4 linked regions of the Homo sapiens genome follow. The protein of the gene in region 2 interacts with the protein of the main gene of each other region in a pairwise test. Each region holds a gene or a part of one and is shown on either strand. Other genes may lie near its edges. The genes, in order: GNG12, HDAC7, ACOT11 and REL.

Region 1 (3,564 bases), on a different chromosome or scaffold from region 2:
GCTCTCCTTGTCCCAGCTTTGTGATTGAGCCCTCTGTCTTGCTCTCTCTGCCTTCCCTGTGTCTTTCTTCTCTTACCAGAGCATCTGTTTGCAGAGGTAACATTACCTTCCCCAGCCACAGGTATGTGGAATACGGTGAGGAAAAAAAAAATTAAAAAAAAAATGCAAGCTGTCAGGATGCTTAAGCTCTTTTCAGACATCTGCAGTTTCATCCCTACCTTGTTCACATACCATCCAAGAGGCACATAGGCTACCCAAGAGAGCCTTGGATTCAGTGGTACACTCCTTGGGCCCAAGGGCTTTAGCAGCTGGATATGGGGTTCCTTGATTTTCCTCTGGGCCCAAATATAGCCCTCACACTCTTGGAATTTCCAGGTATGGGGGTAGCCCCAAAAGGAGGAATCTCCTATGGCCAATAAGGTATCTTGACTTTATCAAAGTAGAAGAGAGGGTCACTTCGGAGTCAAATCATACACTAGGCCTTTGATGCTTTAATTCTTCTTCAGTTCATTAAAAGTAACTACTAAGGAAAGGTTAAAAACTTCCCCTCAAAAAGGAATCAACCCCAGGAAGTAATTATTTACAACGATTTTCCCAAATTTTGTACAATCTGTCCTGGAAAGCAAACCCCTTTTAAAATCTAATGTCTGGGCTTTGAGTATTAGCTCATTTAGGGTGGACAAATGCATTACTGTTTTCAAACTGCTCACATTTATTCAGTATTTCTCCAAGTTGCTATCTACTCAGCCTTATGAATGCCCCTCGCTTTTCTAAGGCCATGTGAAAATCACGGCACTGCCCTTAGCCTTGTGTCATCTGCTTTTTCGTTCTGCGATATGCCCAGTTCCCAAATCAATTATAGGTACCTGTTTAGGAGAGAGGAAGATTTTACCTCTCAAAGGGTGAGATTTGAAATTTACACTAAAAAGACAACTTTACATTTAATGCTTCACTTAATGAGACATTCTTTTTTTTATAAGTCTATTTTTCTACTCAGTTTCAGAACACTAATCTGATTTTCACTCTGATTTTTAACGTTTCTTTAAATATTTATAATGTAGCTTCTTTCAAAATATTTTCATGAAAAATTACTTTTATTATACCATTATGTGCATGTTATTGGTAGCAGGCATAGTTTATTATTTAGTACTGAAACATGCTCTTTTACCTAACAGTAAACAAGTATGTTTTGATATATATCTGTTAATATGCTTATAGTGGTAAGAAATGGACTTGAGGTCCCAGGAGATTTCATTTTATTCACCCTGGTCAGATACAATAAAGGCTATGAGTATAAATACATAACTTCCTAACCAGGTGTAGGGCATGTTCATGAATATCAAATCTTTTGATGCTGGACCCAAGAGAGGAAAAGTTGTAGCTAAATGTTGATTTACTTATAACTAGACGTCTATGTGAGAAAATATATGTATACATATATATGATATGCAGAAGTCACTTTTTTTATCAGGCTTTATTCTCCTTACAAAGCCACAGTTTAACTGTCTGCAACAGTTGGTTTATGTTAATGATAGACAAATACCCAGTGTTTGTTACTTTTTCCAACTACCACTGTAATGATAATCTTTCTCACGTATATACATGCAACTTCTTGGCTTCATTTCCATGAAGCTGTTTCAATATATTCAGTATACTTTGTCCTTAATGCTGCTTCTGTTAACAGTGATCTCTTTCTTTTTTTCATTCTTATATCTTCATTAGTTCATCATAAATCTGTCCAGTTGAGGCCTCAGGACCACGGCATGATTTCATGACTCCGAAGTATTTTACAGAAACATTTTTTAAATAAGGGAAATATTTTATATACCAGATGGTTCACAAGTGATGGCTCATAGCTAGTTTTTTTTTTTCTTCTAAAAAATGTCAGGTTTTTAAAATCATTTACCTTATTAAAATGAAAAGTGCCATACTTAACTTTTAAAGGAAAGACCTGACTTGCTTTTTCTCTATTTAGACTGTTTTTGTACTTTACTAATCTTTAAACTATCAGGAAAAAAACCAAAACTTTATACCAATGATTTAGTAATTTTGAGGCATAGGGTAGCTTACGTAGTGGAGGATGTGCCAAATATTCTCTTCAAATGCCACCTTCTCAATTTATAACTAAAATAGTGTTATCTGACTAATTCCTCTGAATTTTGATGTAAGATCTATATAGGCCCCCAAAATGATCGTAGTACATGCCAGTCATTTCTCAGTGAAATAAATACAATACCAGAGTACATTATGGGTTTTATTGCTTTCTTTTATGGTAGACCTGTTAATGGGGAAAAAATACATCAAATCAAATAGAATCTTATATCTGTATGTTAAAATAGAGCACTTACCTGAAGTCAGTGGCCTGGATCATAGCCCTGGATCATTTCCCAGTCTGTCCTGTGCTGTGTGACCTTGGACAAGGCGCTTCATCTCTCTGGGCCTCTATTTCTCCATTTGTAAAACAAGTGGCTGCAGTAGATGATGGCTGAGAGCCCTTCCTGTTCCCAGATGCCTTGGTCCAAAGACCCCACCCCTCTGCTGGTCCTGCCAACGTGTTGGTGCTATAAGCTGCTTCAGATATAAAATTGGTTTATCTATAATGTTTGTTCATTTAATAGCTTCTAAAAGGCCTTTTTGTTATACAGTGCTTTTTTTCTAGTTTTATGGACTTGGTTACTGTAATAATGTCTTGTTTTTAGCCATGTAACTACAAACAGATATTCTCTTGATGTCTTAGTAAATTTGCATTTGATATATCATTGATGAGATTTTGTTGTTATGTAATATTCTTTGGCTACGCATCTGTCCAGCATCTTATTAACCATAATACTGTGATCATTATTTGGAAATATGTCCTATGGAAAGAATAAAAGCATGTACTTCACAGCTAGCATGTTCACAGATTTGAAAGAAGTTTCATTAAAAGCACCATTGCTTTCTGTACTGCGTCAGTGCCTCATTGTATCATCCTACTTGTGTTTTGCTCAATAAATGAATAAAAGACCATTTCTCTTCCCCTTTCCCTTCCTTCACTCAGTTAACATTTTCTGAGCACCTCCTGAGAGCAAGCTGCTGAGAGTCAGGCTCCCATGACACCCAAATGAATAAGACTTACACCAGCCCATGTCACAGTCTGAGCAAGGAGGATGGGAATGACAGATATGTAAACTAATCATCGTAGTATCATGTGGCAAGTGCTATAACTCAGGTGAACACAGAGTGCTGTGAGAGCCCAGAGGAAAGAGGGACTAGCTCCACATCAACAAAGACCTCTAAAAAGGCTTCCAAGGGTGGTGATGTTTGGGCTGAGTGAGAGAAGAACAGTATGCGTTGGAATGAGGTCCTGGGAGGAGATGAGAGGAGGAGAAAAGAGGACTGGAAGCCAGTGTGCAGAAGACCCCCGATCCCGCCCTCCTATCCTGCTTGCCTATCCTGAAACCAACAGGGGAGCTAGAGAGGCTGCTGAGGAGTGACGTAATGACTCTGACCTGTGGAGGGCTGTTTCCCATCCTGAGACTAGCTGAGGTAGTGGAAACTGATAACAAATGGAAAGGTCATTAGATG
Region 2 (7,071 bases):
ACTCTGGGGCTGCCCGCCCCTGCCAGGGTGAGTGGCTGGGGTGCCCACCCCCACTCCAAGCCCCCCCAGCTTCTTTCACTCCCTTTTCTTGCTGCCTCACCCCATCATCTTCATTGTTCTCTGCTGGAATCTTCTTCCCCGTGACTTCTCCCGCCTCTCCCCCAGGCTGACAGTGACCGCAGGACCCATCCGACTCTGGGCCCTCGGGGGCCAATCCTGGGGAGCCCCCACACTCCCCTCTTCCTGCCCCATGGCTTGGAGCCCGAGGCTGGGGGCACCTTGCCCTCTCGCCTGCAGCCCATTCTCCTCCTGGACCCCTCAGGCTCTCATGCCCCGCTGCTGACTGGTGAGTCTGCTGCTTCTTCAGGGAAGGGGCTGGGTCCCTGCACCCTGCTAAGAGCCAAGCTTGGGATGGACCCATCCTTCCTCCCCATCTCTGTCCCCCTGTCCTGCGCATTGCCCTGCTGCACCCTGGCCCCCCACCCTATACCCTCGCTTCCTTCCATTGCTCCCTGTGGTTCCCTCCTTATTCCACCCCCCGATTCTTTCCAGTGCCCGGGCTTGGGCCCTTGCCCTTCCACTTTGCCCAGTCCTTAATGACCACCGAGCGGCTCTCTGGGTCAGGCCTCCACTGGCCACTGAGCCGGACTCGCTCAGAGCCCCTGCCCCCCAGTGCCACCGCTCCCCCACCGCCGGGCCCCATGCAGCCCCGCCTGGAGCAGCTCAAAACTCACGTCCAGGTGATCAAGGTGAGAGGAATTGGGCAGTGGAGGTATTGAGGGAGTGTTTAACTGGGGACTTAGGGGCCAAAAGAAGAGGGGTACTTAGAAAGGGCAGGGAACTGGAGGGCAAAAGAGGGGGATGTGGCTTCTTGGGGCCCAGAGCTGCATGGCAGCTGGAGTCCTAGCAAGATGACTGGCTGCCTGGCCCAGCCCACCACCTCCCACCCCATGCCCCTCGCTCCACCATGGCTTCTCAGCCAGGTTCTCCCCTCCCCAGAGGTCAGCCAAGCCGAGTGAGAAGCCCCGGCTGCGGCAGATACCCTCGGCTGAAGACCTGGAGACAGATGGCGGGGGACCGGGCCAGGTGGTGGACGATGGCCTGGAGCACAGGGAGCTGGGCCATGGGCAGCCTGAGGCCAGAGGCCCCGCTCCTCTCCAGCAGCACCCTCAGGTATGGCAGTCCCCACCTGCCCCTCAGAAAGTGTCCTCAGAAGACTCTGGGGCCTGGCATAAGATGGGGAAGGGAGGGAGATACGACATCAGTGCAACAGGCAGCTCTAGGACCCATGGTTGCCCTATAAGATCCTGGGTGCTGGATCCACACTAAGGTGTAGGCACACACACACATGCACACTCACACACCCATACACACACATACACACAACAGCTTGCCAGTCTCAGGTGAAGCATGTCCCTTTTCCAGGAAGGAGTCTGTCCTTTCCTGGAGCCACACATAGTCCTGCCCTGGTATGTCTCCCCTCTATCCAGAAAGGTGGCTAGGGCCAGAGGTGGGATGGAGCCAGGCTCCAGCGTGTCCAGCAGAATGCTCTCACTGTGGGAATCAAGACCCAGTGCATTAGCTTGCCGGAGCTGTTGGGATACAGGCTGGGCGCCTTAAACAGCAGGCATTTACCATCTCACAGTTCTGGAGGCTGGAAGTCAAAATCGAGGTGTTGGTGGAGTTGGTTCCTTCTGGGGGCTGTGAGTGTGAGGGCAGGGGCTGTTCCCGGTCTCTCTCCTTGGCTTGTGGATGGTCATCTTCTTCCTGTGGCTTCATGTGGTTTCCCTCTGTGAATGCCTGTTCAGATTTCCTCTTCCTATAAGGACAATAGTCATACTGGGTTAAGGCCCACCCTAACGACCTCATTTTAATTTGATTACTTCTGTTTGTAAAGACCCTATCTCTGAATAAGGTCATGTTTAGAGGTACTGGGGGTTGGGACTTCAACATATAAATTTGAGGGTGGGGAACATAATTTACTCCATAACACATGATGACAGGCCACACACATGTTCTTGAACAGTTACATAGTCCAGGACAGGAGGACATCCTGGTCAGCACAAGATCCAGCGCCCCTCCCCTGGTTCCTGGCTTTGGAGCCCCAAGGGCCCGGGGAGCTGGTGGAATGGGTGGTCAGTCTGGGGTGCAAACCTGTCAGGGGGCTGCAGGGGACAGGGGGCTTAGAGAGTCAAAGGCCAGAGCCCCACTGGACAGCAGGTCTAGGTTTATCCTGGAATCTCTCTAGGAAAGGGGCCTGCTTGGCAGTTCCCAAGACCTCAGGCAGAAGTAGAGGGAGCAGGACCCTGAAACACTGGAGACCAAGGCCCCATCTTTCCCCTAGGTGTTGCTCTGGGAACAGCAGCGACTGGCTGGGCGGCTCCCCCGGGGCAGCACCGGGGACACTGTGCTGCTTCCTCTGGCCCAGGGTGGGCACCGGCCTCTGTCCCGGGCTCAGTCTTCCCCAGCCGCACCTGCCTCACTGTCAGCCCCAGAGCCTGCCAGCCAGGCCCGAGTCCTCTCCAGCTCAGAGACCCCTGCCAGGACCCTGCCCTTCACCACAGGTGAGACCGGGAGGAGGGTGGCGGGTGGAGGGAGGGGCTCGGCTGCACGAGTCCATGTGGGTGTCTTGGTGTCACTTGGGACATTTTTAGAGGCCACAGAGTGCTTAGCCTTGTTAGGCCCACGTAGTACCCATGGAGCACATGGAACAGCTGGTTATTGCATTTGGCCGATGAGGACCAAGGCTCACGAAATCTAAGGTGACAAGCCTGTGGTCAAATAGCAAGTGGTAGTCAAGCCAGGATAAGAATTCCAGTCTCCTGCCAATGCACTCAGCCCTTTTAAAAAATGATATTTATTACTGTTGCTCTGCTTGTAAAAAGAGCTCAGAAGTATTTTAGACATTTTGAAGAGTACAGAAAAACCTAAGAAGAAAAGAAAAATCACCAACCAGTATCCCACCACCCAGAAGTAAACCCTCTGAAATTCTGCTGTATTTCAGTCCAGGCTTTGTTCTGGCCATATGTACATGTACAGATGCCATGAACACATGAACTACGTTTTGTATCCTGCTTTACTTAGTTAACATATTATGAATCCTTCTTGGCATAATTAGTCTTTAAAACTGAGAGTCTCATAGTATTTCATTAATGTATTTCATTTTTACTGAGGGATCCCTTATCAGTTAGACATTTAGATTATAGCTTATTTGAATTTCCTTATGCATAAATCTTTCCTCATGCTTGGGATTATTTCCCAAGGTTCACTCTAAAGAAGTAGCATTCCTGGGTCACATGGTGTGAGCATTTTGAGAGTCGTTGGTGTCCTAGACGCACAGAAATTGACCCTCCCACCCGCAATGAGCAGGACCCTCCTCTGAAGACTTCCCACGGGTCAGACTGAAATAGTCACTTCTCCAAAGCTGGATTTGTCTATCACATGGTCCAGTGTCATCGTGGGCTTCTTAGCTCCCGGTTTGGGGGTTTCCTAGGAATTCTTTTCCCTCCTGCTGCCCCTTGGTAGCCTCTCTGGGTTCATGACACGTGTGTGAGATGCTGTACGTTAGGCCTCATGCTTTGCTCTGAGCACTTGAGGGCCTGGTGCTGGGCCCTCGAGTCCTGGGCCACCCAGCAGTCGTGTCCGCATGTGGGAAGGCCGTGGCTCTGTGGCAGCCATGTTGGCTGGAGCTGTGTTGATGTGTTGGCTGCTGCCACCTGGGGAAGTGTCTGGGCGTGTGTGGACAGGTGTGAGGGGCTGGGGCTGGGGTAGGGGCAGGATGAAATGCAGGCCTGTGTGGGTGTGAGGGGTGTGTACCCGCCCGGCTCCATGTGGGTGCCTGCTGTGGCGGTGCTGGCGTGTTCTCTGCAGCCAAGGCCATGGGGCGTGAGGACTCCCTGGGTCCCCGCTCTGACCCTTGCTCCTGCAGGGCTGATCTATGACTCGGTCATGCTGAAGCACCAGTGCTCCTGCGGTGACAACAGCAGGCACCCGGAGCACGCCGGCCGCATCCAGAGCATCTGGTCCCGGCTGCAGGAGCGGGGGCTCCGGAGCCAGTGTGAGGTGAGGAGGCGCGGGTGGGGCCCGAGGAATGGGTGGAGGGAGGAGTCATGGGAGGGGAGGGGTGGGGGGCCCTGGGGCCCATGAGAGATGAGGGGCACATGGGGTGGTGGTGATGGGAGGGAAGGGGCGAGCATGAGCTCAGAGCTCTGTGGTCCCCTTTTCAGTGTCTCCGAGGCCGGAAGGCCTCCCTGGAAGAGCTGCAGTCGGTCCACTCTGAGCGGCACGTGCTCCTCTACGGCACCAACCCGCTCAGCCGCCTCAAACTGGACAACGGGAAGCTGGCAGGTAATGGCCTAGTGGCCCTGTCTCCCCATGCCAGCTTACCTCACCCAGCTCCCATGCACTCCTGTCTCGGCTCTGCCCGCCCAGCCAGCCTCCTCCTGCACCCTGGACGTCCCTACTCCAGCTTGCTGCCAAGCCCCTCCTCAGCCCACCTCCACCTCTCCCTTCCATATTTCTCTCCCCCAATACTCACCCGGCCCTGCTCTCTGGGCTCCCTGCTCCCTGTTGGGCCAAAGGCTGAGAGTATTCACGCTGACGTGGGCTGGGCCTCTCCCCGCAGGGCTCCTGGCACAGCGGATGTTTGTGATGCTGCCCTGTGGTGGGGTTGGGGTAAGTGTGCCCAGGGGTCTCAGGGGGGCGTTGCCAGGGCTCTCAGCTCTCCTCCCTGTGGTTCTCCCAGGCCCAGCCCCTGCAGAACCTCTGCTTGTTGTGGTTCTGCCAGACAGGGTGAGCCAGGGACTTCCTGAGGTGCCCCCTGCAGCAGGAAGCTCCTTTTGGACAGGCGTGTCTCGGACCCACAGTCTCCCCCGAATGCGGAGTCCAGCCTAAGCCTTCCCCTAGAAGGTGTCTGGTAGATGTTGAGTGAGGTTTCAGGAGCAGGGCCAAGGCTGGGGCTTAGGATCATCTCTCCCTTCAAAGACCCCCATGACTGGGCATTGGCCGCCAGGCTGCTCTGTCTGCTCTTAAGTGGCAAGTTGGGGTACCTCAGCCTGGTCCCCAGACCTTGGGCTGCCTGGTGTGACATCACGGTGGTGCTTCCGGTGTCCTTGGCGATCCCAGCACTCCCCACTCCGGGACATAGCCCCAAACTCCGCTCGCGAGCTTTGCTTCCTAAGTCCTCACCCCTTTGTGAAGGGAGCTTCCCGCTCCCTCCGGCTCAGCTCTCCTCGCCTAACACTATCCCTGCAGTAGTTTCTCAAGCAAGGTGTGTAGAGGCAGGGGATGGAGGCCTCATTCCGGAGGGAAAGTGGGAGCTGTAGCTGGTGGGGGACTTTGGGAGCCAGTCAGTGCCCTATTCACAACTTCCCATTTCTTGCCACTTTCTGGTTTTTCCAACTGTTGTTGCTTCTGTTTTCTCCTCCCTCCTCTCCCTCTCTGTCTTTCTCTCTCTCTCTCTTTCTCCAGCCTCTTGCGACTCTCTCTGCCTTCCTCGCCTCTCTTGGTCTGCCTCGCCCTCCCCATCTCCCCATCATGCCCCCCGGCCCCTCCCTAGCCTTGAGGCCCAGGGACTGGGTTTGGGGGGCCTCCCAGCCTGGGCTAGGGGCCCTGAGTGGAAGACAGTGGTGCAGACGGCCCCTCCAGCTCCGACCGTCCCGCAGGGCCTGAGCAGAGTCAGCTGGGGCTTAAAACCCCCTCCCGGCCCAAACCCCAAGTCCCGCCCAGGTAACGCCATGCCCCCTCCCCTGACCGGGGAGGCAGGCGTGATGCTGCCAGCAGAGTGCTGGCCAGATAATGGGCTGGTGCTGGGACTTAAGCTGGGAAAAAGTCATGCTGGGATTGGGGGACACAGGAGGCCTTGCCTTTGGGCGGTGGGGCACTGGGGAGGCAGCACTGTCTGCCCAGCTCCCTGCCCCTGGGGTCCTGGCCGTGGGGTGGGGACCACCCCCTTGGGCCCTGGCTCCTGTGTGAAGCCTTGGATGATGCGGGCCCTGACTCTGGCTCCCGCAGGTGGACACTGACACCATCTGGAATGAGCTTCATTCCTCCAATGCAGCCCGCTGGGCCGCTGGCAGTGTCACTGACCTCGCCTTCAAAGTGGCTTCTCGTGAGCTAAAGGTAGGAGGTTTGGGTTGAAGGTGGACACACCACAAAGGAGGAAGCAGAGTGGGGTAGTGGGGAATCCAGGCCCAGAACCCCAGGCATCGCATTCCTCTTAGAGATTGCTACAGGGTTTTGGAGGGGAAATTGAGGGCTCTGGGAACCAGGTTGAGATTGGAACTCTTGGGGTACGTTCATGCAGCTGTGGGTCAGAGCTGTCTGTTGATTGACAAGCATTCTTTCTTTTTCCAGAATGGTTTCGCTGTGGTGCGGCCCCCAGGACACCATGCAGATCATTCAACAGCCATGTAAGGCTAAGGGAAGACCTGGGTGGGATGAGGTGGGGGGCAAGCCCCCAGGAACTTCCTTCAGGGACATTCTCTCTTCTTCCCTGAGCTTTCTCAGGCTGGGCCAACCCAGGGGCCTGGGGAGGTGAGGGCATGTGGAGAGAATGGGCTGGCAGGACCTGTCTCTCCTTCCAGGGGCTTCTGCTTCTTCAACTCAGTGGCCATCGCCTGCCGGCAGCTGCAACAGCAGAGCAAGGCCAGCAAGATCCTCATTGTAGACTGGGTAGGTGCCTGTCCGTAGCACCCTCCAATTCGAGAGCCCTGGGGGAAAAGCCCTGAGCCTGATGTTAGAGATGCGGCTTCATGTCTTAGTTCTGCAGTAGCCTCTCTGAGCCTCAGTTTCCCCTTGTGTAAAATTTGGGTGAAGATAACACCCACATCACAGTTGGGAGGCCTAGAGGGGATGGCGTGTGGGAACGCATTCAGCCATCGCAAACCCCTGCAACGAGTAGGAGCTGTCATTTGAGTGTTGTCTTTTGACCTCTATTGGCTTCTTTTGGCAGATCTAGTAATTTCTGCATTTCCTGTACAGGTAGTGATGATAAGAATAATAGCAGATAACATCAGTACACCACTAATCACATCCAGACACTGATGGTTTTACACATGATGGATTTAATCC
Region 3 (7,000 bases), on a different chromosome or scaffold from region 2:
AGCCTGGATTTTAGTCCAGATTCCAGGAATCTGGAATCCTTGGAAAAATCATTGCCCAGTTCTAGGCCTTGGTTTCCCCATCTATATAATGTCCACACTCTGCAATCATAGAACTTCCAAAGTGAGGGGGAATGGTGGTGGCTGCTATTTTATAATTAATAAGGATGGTAAGTGGCTGAGCGCAGTGGCTCACGCCTGTAATCCCAGCACTTTGGGAGGCCGAGGCAGGAAGATCACTTACGGCTCGGAGTTCAAGACTATCCTGGCCAACATGGCGAAACCCCGTCTCTATTAAATAAACAAAAAATGAGCCAGGCATGGTGCACACACCTGTAATCCCAGCTACTCAGGAGGCTGAGGCACGAGAATCCCTTGAATCCAAGAGGCGGAGGTTGCAGTGAGCCAAGATTGTACCACTGTACTCCAGCCTGGGCGACAGAATGAGACTGTCTCAAAAAATAAATAAAGGAATAAAGAAATAAAGACAGTAAGATACATGAATAGCAGCAACTGAGCTGTTTGAAGCAAGGCTGCCACAGCACTTGTAAATATGCACATAATGAACATTTTCTAATTAGGCCGTCCACCTCCACCTCCTGGTTTATGTCCTTACATCCCTTTGCAGTTTTTGATGGCATATTTATACCTTTGCTTTCTTGTTGGTTGCCTCCTCCCCTGACTGTTAGCCCATGAGGCATAGACTGGACAGGTTTATTCACTCTCGCATCCTCACAGGGCCGGACACACACAAGAGGTGCTCTGTAAACAATGGTGGAGGGAGCGGTCCCAGGTGTCCTGTCACTGGGACTCTGATCCACGTTGCTGGAAGAACTGCAGGAGTGTATGTGAGTGTGTGTGTGCATACATGTGTGTGTATGTGTGTGCATACATGTGTGTGTATGTGTGTGCATACGTGTGTGTGTGTGCATGCATGTGTGTGGGCGCATGTGTGCATGTGTGTGTGTGAGTGTGTGTGTTGGGGAGGAGGCATGGCCCTTGGGAAGGTCTGTCCAGGTTGGAAGCCACACTCCCTCCCCTCAGCATGGAGGTGGGCGTGTGCGTGGAGGCCTATCGCCAGGAGGCTGAGACCCACCGGCGCCACATCAACAGTGCCTTTATGACCTTTGTGGTCCTGGACGCAGATGACCAGCCCCAGTTGCTGCCCTGGATTCGGCCCCAGCCCGGCGTAAGTGGGACCAGCGCCCTGCCCCACCAGCAGCTCCCCTCCCCTCCCTCTCTGCCCTGGCATGGTGGAGACTGCCAGCCCCCTACAGACCTAGAGGCGTGAGGGGCCCACCCTACCCCCGTGCTGGGGCACAGCCAGCTGAGTGTCCTGGCTGTGAGCCCTGGGATGCCCCTTGTGCAGGGCGGGCTTGTTCTGCCTGACAGAACTCGGAGTATGTGTGGGTCTGGCTCGGAGTTGGGGGTTAATGGGCTGTCATGAGCCTGCAGGGTTGGAAGAGTACTGGCTTTGGAGTCAGATGTGGGTTGGAACCTCGCCTCTACTACATTCAAGTGATGCCCCCTCGAGCTTTCAGTCTCCATTTGTAAAATGGGTGTATCTGCAGTCCCTACCTCACAGGACTGTGGGGCGATAGATGCAGTACTGACTCCATGCCTGGCTGCGCCCTGGGAGCGGTCAGGAGGATGGTGAAAGCAACGCAAGGGGCACGGGAAGACAGTCAGGAGCCTGGTGCAAGGTCCTCTCTTACAAAATGCTCCCTGTGCCTCCTGTGGGCCAGGCCTTGGAGAGGCCGCTCCCTCCCTTGGGGGAGGTCCCCTGGCCTTCCTGCTGGCCTTCCAGAGGGTAGCGTGGGCTGTGGAGTTGGGTGGAGCCTCGGGACTGGGAGCTGGGGGTCACAGCCATAGCCGCTTCCCAGGCATTTTCCTTGTACTTGGGGCTGGAGGACGTTAGATGTGGCGGTAAAGAGGGTGGGCTTGAGGCAGGCCATTGGGGTGCTGATCCTGGCCTCGGCCCTTACCCCTGTGGCCTTGGCAAGCCCTCACCCTTCCTTGTCTCAGGTTCCTCCTCTGTAGAATGGATACAGCACCAGCCCCAGCCTCAGAGGGTTGTTGTAAGGATTTGGTGCAATTCCACATGGAAAGCCCTTGAGAAGAGTGGCTGGTGTGTAGTGAGTGCTCAGTAAATGTGGACTCTCATTACCATTGTGAGTGGCCTGTAAGGATCCCCATTTTACAGAGGAGGAAACTGAGGTCTGGCCAGGGGAGGTGGTGTTCCCAGGTCACTCAGAGAGTTTGAGGGGAGCTGGGGCTACAGCTTAGTTTCCCACTTTGCTGGCCAGGATGTTTTGATTCCAGCTGCCCCAGCGACACCTGAACTCCACGTTAGGGCTGCAGGAACTCCTTGGGCCCTGGGGGATGGAGAGGGGGCAGGACGGAGGGTGGGGGTAGCTGGTTGCCTATCCCGACTTCCTCCCCAGGATGGTGAGCGGCGGTACCGAGAGGCCAGTGCCAGAAAGAAGATCCGCCTGGACAGGTGAGTAGGGGCTGAGTGGTGGGCAGAATGTGGATTCGGGGCTGTTCACGCTCCGCTGACCCCAGGGCACTCGCTTTTCTTCAGAGCTGCCTGTGCGTTGGGCCCTGGGCCGGGCCCTTTACATCCTCTCGTTTTGGTCTTATTACACAGCGGTCTTCTGGCCTGTTGTACACACGAGGACGCTGGGGACAGAGGGGTTAGGTGGCTTGCCCAGGGACACACAAATATCATCAGCAGAGTCAGAATTTGAAGCTGGCTGAGTCCAGCCGATTTTAAATCCTGTGTTCTTGCCATTGATTCTGATGCCCATTTGGCAGATGAAGAAACGTTCAGAGAGGAGATGCAGTTGTTCAAGAGGTAAAGCCACTTTGGGAGGCCGAGGCAGGCAGATCCCCTGAGTTCAGGAGTTTGAGACTAGCCTGGCCAACATGGCAAAACCCCGTCTCTACTAAAAATACAAAAATTAGCTGGGCGTGGTGGCTCTCGCCTGTAGTCCCAGTGCACCTATAGTCAGGAGGCTGAGGCTGAGGCAAGAGAATCGCTTGAACCGGGAGTTGCAGGTTGTAGCAAGCCGAGATTGTGCCATTGCACTCCAGCCTGGGCAACAGAGCAAGACTCTGTCTCAAAATAAATAAATAAATAAAAATGAAGCCAGGTGTGTCTGACTCTGCTGTGAAAGCATTTATGGACTTTAGAGGCTGTAAGCACAGCAGGGATCACAAGCTGTTGTTAGTAAGAAAGTGTGCATCTATGGCATTTACTGAGCATTTACCGTGTGCCAAGCACTGTTATTGTGATGTCCCCATGAGGCAGGGGTGACTGCTGATCCCATTTCACAGATGAGGACACAGCAGCACCAGGGTGAGGTCACTCAGCAGGGGTATGGGGTGTGGGAATCGAGCCTTAGACGCCATACCCTTCCTTGCTGGCTCGCTCCCACCTCTGAGCTTTCCCTGGTGTAGGGGCCGAGCTGGTGTGCCCTCAGCTGCTGTGTCCTGTGTGACCATCCAGCCTCCCTACCCAGACAGGAGTCTCCCATTCTGCCGGGCTCAGCACAGGGCCTAGCACAGAGTAGGCCTGCAGTAGAGTCTGTGGAAAGTGCTGAACTTCCAGGGGACCAAGGTTGTCATCTTCTCTCCTTCCCAGGAAGTACATCGTGTCCTGTAAGCAGACAGAGGTGCCCCTCTCCGTCCCCTGGGACCCTAGCAACCAGGTAAGGCTCTCTGCTCCGAGAGGACAGTCTTCAGACCCACCGGGCCCCCACCCTTCCCTGCTTGTCAGAACGGGTTTGGAGGAAGGCCGGGGAGAGCAGGATATGAATGACACGCCTCATGATTGCTACCATTAGCAAAGAGCTGGCCTGCGTCCCTGTTTGGTAGGTGGAAGCGGAGACCCTGAGAGGCAGAGTAGCTTGTCTAGGGTCACACAGTGGGTCTAGCCAAGCCCAAGCCTGGACCTCCCTTCTCAACGCCCAGGACTCTTTCCACAGCACCTGCCGCACCACCCACCCACCGCCCAACCCATTCCTGGCCCAGGTTCCTCTCTGGCACACCCTTGGCCTTGGCTCAGGGGCCCTGAAGGAAGGGGGTGGGGTAGTGGTAGCACCTGTGTACTCTTTCAGGTGTACCTGAGCTACAATAACGTCTCCTCCTTGAAGATGCTTGTGGCCAAGGACAACTGGGTGCTGTCCTCGGAGATCAGTCAGGTAGCTGACCCCACCCACCCAATTTTCCTTTCTCATCTGAGCCAGAGGTGGCTAATGGCAAGCAACAAGAACTCTCCCACACCACTTATGTCAAAAAAAGATCTCTTCAAAGAATTGGGTGAGATCAAGAAACCAGTCCAGTTATGGAAACGTACCCACCCCTGCAGGGCCTGGAGTCGAGAACCCCTAGATTCTTCTCTCCTGCCTGCCCCCCTTCCTGTTCTCAACCACTCAGGTCTGCTGCTGTCTGACCAGGCACTTCCTCCCTCTCTGTTCTTCTGCAGTGATCACTGCAGGGATCGGGGCAGCCAGCAGGCACGCGCTTACAGGAGACCTAAGCTCTGCCAGCTGCCTGTTCCCCTAGACAAGCCACTTCCTGCCTGTGCCACTGGGGCTTGGATGGGCACCTGGCTGACAGGAACCACCACATGTTGCCTTAGTCACTGTTGTCTTAAGCCACCTTCCTGTCCATTTGTGCTGAATTCATAATTCGTGGGGATGCAGCTGAGACTCAGAGAGGTTGAGCTGCGTGTTCACATTCACACAGCAAGTCAGCTGTAGCCCTGAGCTTCCAGTCTCAGCCTCCAGCATCCCCATCAGTCCACTCCACCACCCAGCAAATGAGGCTGCCCTCTATCCCATGCAGGTCCGCCTGTACACTCTGGAGGATGACAAGTTCCTCTCCTTCCACATGGAGATGGTGGTGCATGTGGATGCAGCCCAGGCCTTCCTGCTGCTCTCGGACCTGCGTCAGAGGCCAGAGTGGGACAAGCACTACCGGTGAGGGGCCAGGGTGAGGGCAGGGCAGTGTCCCTTCTCCGGCCTGATGAGGGAGAGAGTGTCTCCTTCTGCGGGTCATCCTCCATGATGCTCTGCCCTGCTGGGGCTGGGGGTGGGTTGGAGTTCCATGCTGGGTGGGGGTTCAGGGTCATGGGTATTTTGAGCCCTTAGGGAAGAGACTGAGCACGGAATTAGAGCTGGAGGCTTGAGTTGAAGTCCTGCTTCTGTCCCAACCAGCTGTGTGACATTGGATAAGTCAAAGTCACTTCCTTTCTGGCCTCAGTTTCTCTCTTCTTAAAATGGATGCTTGGATGGCGGGTCATGGATTCACACTCAGAGATACTGATTTTCAAACCATGTGCTGTGGAGTTCTGTGTTCCCAAAGGGGCTTCCGGAACTGCTGGGGGTGGAGTTGGAAGGATGAAGGGTGATCGGGACATAGCATGGCCAGTTTGTTGAACTTACCAAGTTTGCTGATTTTCCTCACAAATATATTATTTTTGAATATAATGAATGATTATGAATAGAAATATGTTATTCCTTTACATACATTTGTTCCTCCAAATTTATTGATTGTTCACATGACTATCTTCTTCTCGAATTTAGTCAAGGAAGATAAATATGTTCTTAGGAAAATAGCAAAATTTGTGTTTTTCAAGTCCCCTTAAAGTCATTTTCTGTTCTGCCATCACCGGGGCTCGAGGGGGTTCTTTGATAATTGCTTGTTATGAGGAGCCTACATTCTGGAGAATTTCCGTAAGGAGGTTCTGTGTGTTTGGAAATTCAGTCCGCTGGTCACTTGGTGAATTGTATTTTGACAAACTGGCTTTCCCCTTCCCACCCCATCTATTTTCTCCAGAGCAGGCTTGTAGCTCTTTATACATGGGCTTCCTGCTGAAGGTGTCTTTGCAAAAAGGGCCATGTTGCCTTAAAAAGCCCTGGCCCAGCTGACTCAGGCCTGCTGGTTGTCCCCTTCCAGAAGGCAGAGAGGTGATTTGGTGGTGGATGTCGTGTAGGGGGAGGGCGGTTGTGCATGTGGTAGGTGGGCTTCTTGGAGGGAGGCTGGGGTGGGCCTTGAAGGCCAGACCAAATCTTGATACTTGATGGGATTTGTGGGGGAGTGGCCTGAGGGGAAAGAGAGCCCCTAGTTTCTTCCCCATACCCTGCCTACTGCTGAGTGCAGGCAGGGGAGTGGGGAGGAGGAGGTGGGTCTGGACATGGCCATGCCTGCCTCTGTGTGGGTGTCCTTGTGTGGGTGCACGTGTTGGTATGAACCTGTGTATGCCCATGCATGTATGTGTCAGGTGCCTGGGCCTGGGGATACATCTCTGCCACCTGATAGCCTGGACACACCCCAGCCCTGCTTCCTTATTAGCTCTGTGGCCGTGGGCAGGTTATCTTCCTCATCTATGAGATAGGAATACTAAAAGCGTCTACAGCATGGGGCTGTTATGGAGATTAAGTGACACATGTAAAGCATTTAGAACAGCACCTGGCACTCAGTGGGCGCTCAGTAAATATTAAGAACAACTGCTAAATCATCACACATCCTTGTGGTGTCTGCACCTGCGCAGACATGTATAGACACACGTGGGTCTCTGTGTACACTGATGTCTGTCCATGTGCCTGTGCACATATGACCACATGTGTGCATGTATGTGCACATCTTTGTTCCCATGTCTGTGTGTATGTGTTCATTTACTTGCATGCATGTCTACATGTGCCTGTGTGTGCACACGCACATGTGTGTCCATCTTGGCTGGGCTTTGCTGCCTTCCTGCTGGCCCTTGCTGAGCAGTACAGGGGGTGACATCCCATCACAGAAGCTGCTCAGGCACTGCAGTGTGGCAGGGCCCGGGCAGACCCGCTGCTTGCATGGGAGCTGGAAGCTTCCTGGGGCACTGAGATCCCGGCCTCCCCACAGGAGCGTGGAGCTAGTGCAGCAGGTAGACGAGGACGACGCCATCTACCACGTCACCAGCCCTGCCCTCGGAGGTCACACAAAGCCCCAGGACTTC
Region 4 (7,000 bases), on a different chromosome or scaffold from region 2:
CGCCACCACACCCGACTCATTTTGTATTTTTAGTAGAGATGGGGTTTCACCATGTTGGCCAGGCTGGTCTCAAACTCCTGACCTCAGGTGATTCACCCACCTCAGCCTCCCAAAGTGCTGGGATTGCAGGTATGAGCCACTGCGCCTGGCCAATTTTTCTGTTTTTTTATGGAGACAGGGTTTTGTCATGTTGCTTAGGTTGGCCTCAAACTCCTGCGCTCAAGTGATCCACCTGCCTCAGCCTCCCAAAGTGCTGAGATTACTTTAAACAATTTTTTACTAAGAGAAAAATATCCTTTTCTACTGATACTACTGATTTGGGACATATTCTATAATACTTATTAAATCCAACTTACATACATATTTATTGAAAACATTTTCTATATGTGAATAAAATATTTGTTTATTAAAGGAGAGGATACAATCCTATAATTTTTTATCTGCTTTCCTGGTTTCTTTCTAATCAGATACTTACGGCAATAAAGCAAAGAAACAAAAGACAACTCTGCTTTTCCAGAAACTGTGCCAGGATCACGGTAAGAATAGTTTGGATCGATTCATATTTAAATAGGTTTTGTTTTATTTACTTTATTCAGTTTTTCAAATTTTATTATTTTTGTTTTGTTTTGTTGTTTGTTTGTTTTTTGAGATAGCATCTCTCTCTGTCACCCAGGCTGGAGTGCAGTAGGGCAATCTCAACTCACTGCAACCTCTGCCCCCCAGGTTCAACAATTCTCCTGCCTCAGCCTCCCGGGTAGCTGAGATTACAGGCATGTGCCACCACACCCGGCTAATTTTTGTATTTTTAGTAGAAACAGGGTTTCGCCATGTTGACCAGGATGGTCTTGAACTCCTGACATCAGGTGATCCACCCACCTTGGCCTCCCAAAGTGCTGGGATTACAGGTGGGAGCCACCACGCCCGGCCAGTTTTTCAGATTTTAACTGATAATGTTATTTTTCAAATGACATTTAATAATGGAAAAACTTTATCCTAACAGTTAATTTTCCTGAGAGACCAAGACCTGGTCTCCTCGGTTCAATTGGAGAAGGAAGATACTTCAAAAAAGGTATTTTATTTCCTATAGCATATTTCTTGTGATCAGAAAGACCAGTACTTTGCACAATATATTGGAATTCTATTTTTAGGAATGAATAACTGCTTCTTTGAAAATTTTCTCTCCAGATTTTTCATGCTTTCAGTATAGAATGAATTAAGCATGGCTTCTGAAGGTTGTGTTAGAAACTGATTATGTTTTTGGGATTTATTGTTCAAGAAATTACATGTTGTTCATATGGTAGCAATTTTATTAATTACATTGCGTTATGAAAAAATGTTACTGATTTGGTTAGTTACCTGTTTTTATAAATAACATTTTACTGGAACACGGCCATGAATATTTGATTAAATATTATCTCTAAACTGCTTTTTTTTTTTAACACTATGGCAACAGGGTTGAATAGTTCCAACAGAGGCTGTATATAGCTCACAAAGCCTAAAATATTTACAATCTGACTTTTTACAGAAAAAAAAATTGCCAATCCCTAGTTTAGGTAATTCAACCGAGGGCTAATTAGAAGAAGTCTTTTTTCCCCCACGTACATTCTTAAATCATTGCTTTTTCCTGGTTTAGTTTGTAAAGCATTTGTATAATATGTAAATAGATACAGAATTAATTTTTTCTGTAATTTTTTTCTGACTGTGAATTTTATAGTCTCTTAGGGTTCTGTTGTAATATATCTTAAAAGTTATGTGTATTTTCTTATCCCTAATGAGTGTTGTCTCCATCCTTCCATTTTCTCCTAAAAGTGAAGAGTAAGAGATGATTTTGGCTATTTGGAATCCCATTAATTGTAATTCTAATATTTATCTTTTAGTTTTCAAAAATACCTTTATAGAGCCTCAGAAACTAGATTTTCATATTTAATTGAAGTGAAATTACATATGCCAAAGTAACTTGCCAAAATCATTTTACCTGTATTTGTAAAATGGTATATACGTTACAGAATTTCATTTTGGATTCGTGTAATAATTTTAGTGCTTTTTACATTTTTTTATTTGAAATGTTACATTGGTTTCCTTGACATTTTTCTTTATATATATTTGTGTGCTTATGCAATTTTAATTTAGAAATGCTTTTTATAATTTTGTTCATTTTAATTTCGTAAAATAAATTTTTCCTCCCACAGAACCAAACTTGTTTTCTCATGATGCAGTTGTGAGAGAAATGCCTACAGGGGTTTCAAGTCAAGCAGAATCCTACTATCCCTCACCTGGGCCCATCTCAAGTGGATTGTCACATCATGCCTCAATGGCACCTCTGCCTTCTTCAAGCTGGTCATCAGTGGCCCACCCCACCCCACGCTCAGGCAATACAAACCCACTGAGTAGTTTTTCAACAAGGACACTTCCTTCTAATTCGCAAGGTATCCCACCATTCCTGAGAATACCTGTTGGGAATGATTTAAATGCTTCTAATGCTTGCATTTACAACAATGCCGATGACATAGTCGGAATGGAAGCGTCATCCATGCCATCAGCAGATTTATATGGTATTTCTGATCCCAACATGCTGTCTAATTGTTCTGTGAATATGATGACAACCAGCAGTGACAGCATGGGAGAGACTGATAATCCAAGACTTCTGAGCATGAATCTTGAAAACCCCTCATGTAATTCAGTGTTAGACCCAAGAGACTTGAGACAGCTCCATCAGATGTCCTCTTCCAGTATGTCAGCAGGCGCCAATTCCAATACTACTGTTTTTGTTTCACAATCAGATGCATTTGAGGGATCTGACTTCAGTTGTGCAGATAACAGCATGATAAATGAGTCGGGACCATCAAACAGTACTAATCCAAACAGTCATGGTTTTGTTCAAGATAGTCAGTATTCAGGTATTGGCAGTATGCAAAATGAGCAATTGAGTGACTCCTTTCCATATGAATTTTTTCAAGTATAACTTGCAAGATTTAAATCCTTTTAAATCTTGATACCACCTATATAGATGCAGCATTTTGTATTTGTCTAACTGGGGATATAATACTATATTTATACTGTATATATAATACTGACTGAGAATATAATACTGTATTTGAGAATATAAAAAACTTTTTTCAGGGAAGAAGCATACAACTTTGGACATAGCGAATACAAAATTGGAAGCTGTCATAAAAAGACAACTCAGAGGCCAGGCGCAGGGGCTCACACCTGTAATCCTAGCACTTTGGGAGGCCAAGGCGGGTGGATCACTTGAGACCAGGAATTCGAGACCAGCCTGGCCAACATGGTGAAACCCCGTCTCTACTAAAAATACAAAAATTAGCTGAGCATGGTGGTACGTGCCTGTACTGTCAGCTACTTGGGAGGCTGAGGCACAATAATTGTTTGAACCCAGGAAGCAGAGGTTGCAGTGAGCTGAGATCACACCACCGCACTCCAGCCTGGGTGACAGAGTGAGACTCTGTCTCAAAAAAAAAAAAACAAAAAAAACACACTTTTTTATATTTCTTTTTATAATGTTTTAATGTATTCTTAAATTTCAAGCAAATTTAAGATAAAACTTGTAATGGCTATGCCATTGAAAAACTTAATTTTTTATTTTTGAGGCCCATGGGCCAAGGTAACCCCTAAGGGGTTTTCTTAGGCTTCTTGGAGCTTAGATTTGTATGTATATCAAAATGTCTTTAAAATGTTAAGTTGGGCAGAAGGCAGTTGAAGTGAGCTTTCAAGGTATGGGAGGTTTTCTACATTTTATACTATTTCAATCTATGCCTTTAAAGTTGCTTATGATTTTAGCTGTACACTCATTTTTTAAGGGGAAGAAGTTTCCTTGGACCATTCGCCTTTCTTAGATGTCCTCACTCCCTGTGATCTCATAAAACTGCCTATTTGACATCTCTATCTAGAAATCTAATTAAAGCTCACACTCAGCATATCCAAAACTGAATTCTTGGTCTTCCCTCCCAAACTTGCTTCTCCTTCAGTCTTCTCCAACTCAGTAAATGGCAATGCCATACTTCTGGTTGCTCAGGCCAAAAACCCTGAAGTCATCCTTGATTCTTCTTTTAGCACCCATATCCAATCCATTAGCAAATCTGGTAGACCCTACCTTCACAATATATCTAAAGCTGACCACCTCTTTTGACCTCTACTATTAACGCCCTATTCCAAGCCACCATCATCTCTTCCCTGGATTGAAGCTGTCATCTACAAAAATTCTTCTTATATCCTTGCATTCCTACAGTCTGTTCCCCATAAAGTAGCCAGAATGATTATTTTTAAAACAAGTCAACTCATACCATTCATCTGCTCAAAACCATTCATTGGCTTCTCATCTCACTCAGAGCAGTCAAAGTCCTTAAAAGTTGCAGGCCTAGACTCCCTGTCCTACCTCAGGTACCACCATATCCCACCTCCTCATGCAGCTCCAGGCACCTTGGCCTCAGTGCTCCTCAAAGCATCAAGTATGCACTTGCCTTGGACAGTCTGTACTTGGTATTCCCTCTGCCTTGAATGTTGTTCTCCCAGAAAAATGCATAGTTCACTCTTACATCCTTCAGGTGTCACTCCACTGTTACCTGAGCAGGTCGTCCTTGAATATATACATCAGCATTCCCTTTCCCCCCTGCTTTATGTATGTCCATAGCACTCACCACGATCTGACTTTACTAAGTATTTATTCATTTACTGTTTGTTTTCCCATACCGAAATATAAACTTTCTAAGGACAGAAATTTTTGTGCTTTATTGTTGAATCTCCAATTTGTAGAAAAATGCCTACCTTATATTAAACACTCAGTAAATGTTTATTGAACATTAAAAGTATTACTAATAGAACTTTGGTTTTTGAAAGAAATAATAACTTTAATTATAAGACGTATATGATTTTTGCAGTTTTACTTAGTGTGACATTGGGTTTATGAGAATCGTGTACATTCAAGTCCAGGAATAATAATGGTCATCCAAATTGTTTGAAAGGAAAATAATCCCAGTGGCAAAATGATGGTAGAATTTGGGTAATCTTTTTTTTCCTTTTATGAAAAGAGATTTTATTGAAGGTAAAACATTAGAGGTTCATTGAGAATCTCTAAATCCATGTTTTGACATTGTCAAGCTCATTGCAACTTCCAGATTGAGTAACACTTATAACACATTTCCTTTTCAAAGTGCAAGATTTTTAAAAGAGACTTGTCACATATTCATTTGGCTGGTTTCAAATGGTGAGCTGAATGCTGGGTAATCTCTACTAGCTCCTTAATCAGATTTAAAATTCTCAGTGTTTCCTAGTTGTTTCTGCATACTTTATGTGAGTTGTTATAGCTGTAACATTACACTTTATTTGCTGTTTGTGTTTCGTGACTTTTGGTAATTCTGGCATTTAGAAACCTTTCACTTTGCTTCAAAACGTAGTTATATTTTGGAGTTTTCATTTGATATATAATTATTTATTTTGCCCTTTTATTTCCCAAAGACATTGTAAGGGTTAATTAGATCATTATATTTTATTATTACAGATTAAAGTTGGGCAGTAATCTTAATTATGATGGAATTATCATTATGCTAAGTAATTAACTTTACCTAGTTTGTTTTACAACTAGAACCTGCCCTAAATGTTGAATATCTTCCTAGCAAGAAACAGTCTGTCATTTTACTTACACGATGTCTAACCAAACCATAACTTTACATAAACTAGTCGTTTCGGTCAAATAGAAAAATGTGTGAATGCCATAAAAACAAAAATTCTCAGTTAAATGATACTGGGAAATAGGGAAGACAGCAAAGTGAGACTTGGGCTCAGGATGGTTCAGGAAGAAAAAAAAAGAAAGACCCCTGAGTACCATTAATATTCCTCAGAAATTATTATTTCAAAAGGAAATATTTCTGTATTATAAATTTTTCATGAGCAGCCATTATGAAATCTCACAAGAATCATAGAATTCAATAAAAAAGGTAGAAAGTAATTTTTTTACTTAAAAATATAAATTAAAATAAATTTTTAAAATCATAAGCACATAAATAGAACTTACCAGGGAGAAAGAAAAACCTGAAGGCACAATTTCTTTTCTGTTCAAAATGTGAACCCAGGATGTCTCTAGATGATGATGGATGATAGGTGGGGAGATTTTTTTTTTTTTTAATACAGAATCTCATAGTTTTGGATTAATTAGCACCAATCAGTTTAAACACTGACTGTTAGAATAGCTGCATGGGTTTTTTTCTTTAAACTAATTAAGCGTTGGCTACTTAGTATAAGTAAGTATAAGCCGAATTAAGGTTCTGCTACATCTGTGTTTAGAATATTTTTTTAAAACTAAATAAGTGTTGGCTAGTTTTGCGGTGTAAGCAGAATTAAGGTTCTGCTACCTCTGTGTGTAGAATATTCCCAATGGATTTTTCATTTTTCAGGTGCTATTTTTTGACCCTGTATAGACTTTAATTTAAAATGAATTTGGTAACGTTTCTCCTCTGTCTCTACATATATTCATGCTTTCACCTGCTCTTTTAACACCTGCTTTTAGTATCTGAGGCACTTTTTCTGAACTCTACTTGTGCACTGGATCCCTCCTCCTTTCTCTGCCAGGCTGTGTTTACTTTATCCTTACATCACCACTTAGTGATTCCTTTCTTTGTATAAACATGGTAAATGTCTTCATTAGCCTAAAAGGAAAGACCAAATAAAACCTTTCCTACCACTTGGATGCATTTGCATCCTGACTTCTGAAATGCCTCCAGCCTCCATTTTCTCCCTTCCCAGTTATTCCTTAGCCCAGCCATCTCTGTCTTTAGCTCCTACAATTTTCTTAGGATATTCTGGGAAAGATGAGCGGAGACTGCCCGCCTTGTCAAATCTAGTGTCTTTTTTTCAGTCCTCACACTGCTTGACCTATGTATAACCTCCTATACTTCCCTCTTTGCATACTCCTCTGGGTTTTCTGTGGTAGTCAAGATTCCTCCCTGAGATTTATTTCCCATGAGTCTTGACCCCTCCCCTCAGTTGG

The links.
Region 1: the proteins of HDAC7 (region 2) and GNG12 interact in binary tests that used the Homo sapiens proteins (3 or more experiments, as listed by UniProt).
Region 3: the proteins of HDAC7 (region 2) and ACOT11 interact in binary tests that used the Homo sapiens proteins (3 or more experiments, as listed by UniProt).
Region 4: the proteins of HDAC7 (region 2) and REL interact in binary tests that used the Homo sapiens proteins (3 or more experiments, as listed by UniProt).

What each region holds. Positions count from the first base shown.
Region 1 is NC_000001.11:67,700,917-67,704,480, reverse strand, and holds the end of GNG12 (guanine nucleotide-binding protein G(I)/G(S)/G(O) subunit gamma-12), read left to right. Parts: 3' UTR 1-3,006; downstream 3,007-3,564. UniProt on the Homo sapiens protein: Guanine nucleotide-binding proteins (G proteins) are involved as a modulator or transducer in various transmembrane signaling systems.
Region 2 is NC_000012.12:47,788,862-47,795,932, reverse strand, and holds part of HDAC7 (histone deacetylase 7), read left to right. Parts: coding exon 1-27; intron 28-165; coding exon 166-346; intron 347-552; coding exon 553-749; intron 750-999; coding exon 1,000-1,173; intron 1,174-2,344; coding exon 2,345-2,564; intron 2,565-3,263; coding exon of another isoform or gene 3,264-3,274; exon of another isoform or gene 3,275-3,928; coding exon 3,929-4,062; intron 4,063-4,226; coding exon 4,227-4,347; intron 4,348-4,624; coding exon 4,625-4,674; intron 4,675-6,012; coding exon 6,013-6,120; intron 6,121-6,354; coding exon 6,355-6,410; intron 6,411-6,584; coding exon 6,585-6,672; intron 6,673-7,071. UniProt on the Homo sapiens protein: Responsible for the deacetylation of lysine residues on the N-terminal part of the core histones (H2A, H2B, H3 and H4).
Region 3 is NC_000001.11:54,600,228-54,607,227, forward strand, and holds part of ACOT11 (acyl-coenzyme A thioesterase 11), read left to right. Parts: intron 1-1,041; coding exon 1,042-1,186; intron 1,187-2,441; coding exon 2,442-2,497; intron 2,498-3,643; coding exon 3,644-3,710; intron 3,711-4,118; coding exon 4,119-4,202; intron 4,203-4,848; coding exon 4,849-4,982; intron 4,983-6,906; coding exon 6,907-7,000. UniProt on the Homo sapiens protein: Has an acyl-CoA thioesterase activity with a preference for the long chain fatty acyl-CoA thioesters hexadecanoyl-CoA/palmitoyl-CoA and tetradecanoyl-CoA/myristoyl-CoA which are the main substrates in the mitochondrial beta-oxidation pathway.
Region 4 is NC_000002.12:60,919,574-60,926,573, forward strand, and holds part of REL (proto-oncogene c-Rel), read left to right. Parts: intron 1-467; coding exon 468-536; intron 537-809; coding exon of another isoform or gene 810-905; intron 906-1,000; coding exon 1,001-1,069; intron 1,070-2,189; coding exon 2,190-2,962; 3' UTR 2,963-7,000. UniProt on the Homo sapiens protein: Proto-oncogene that may play a role in differentiation and lymphopoiesis.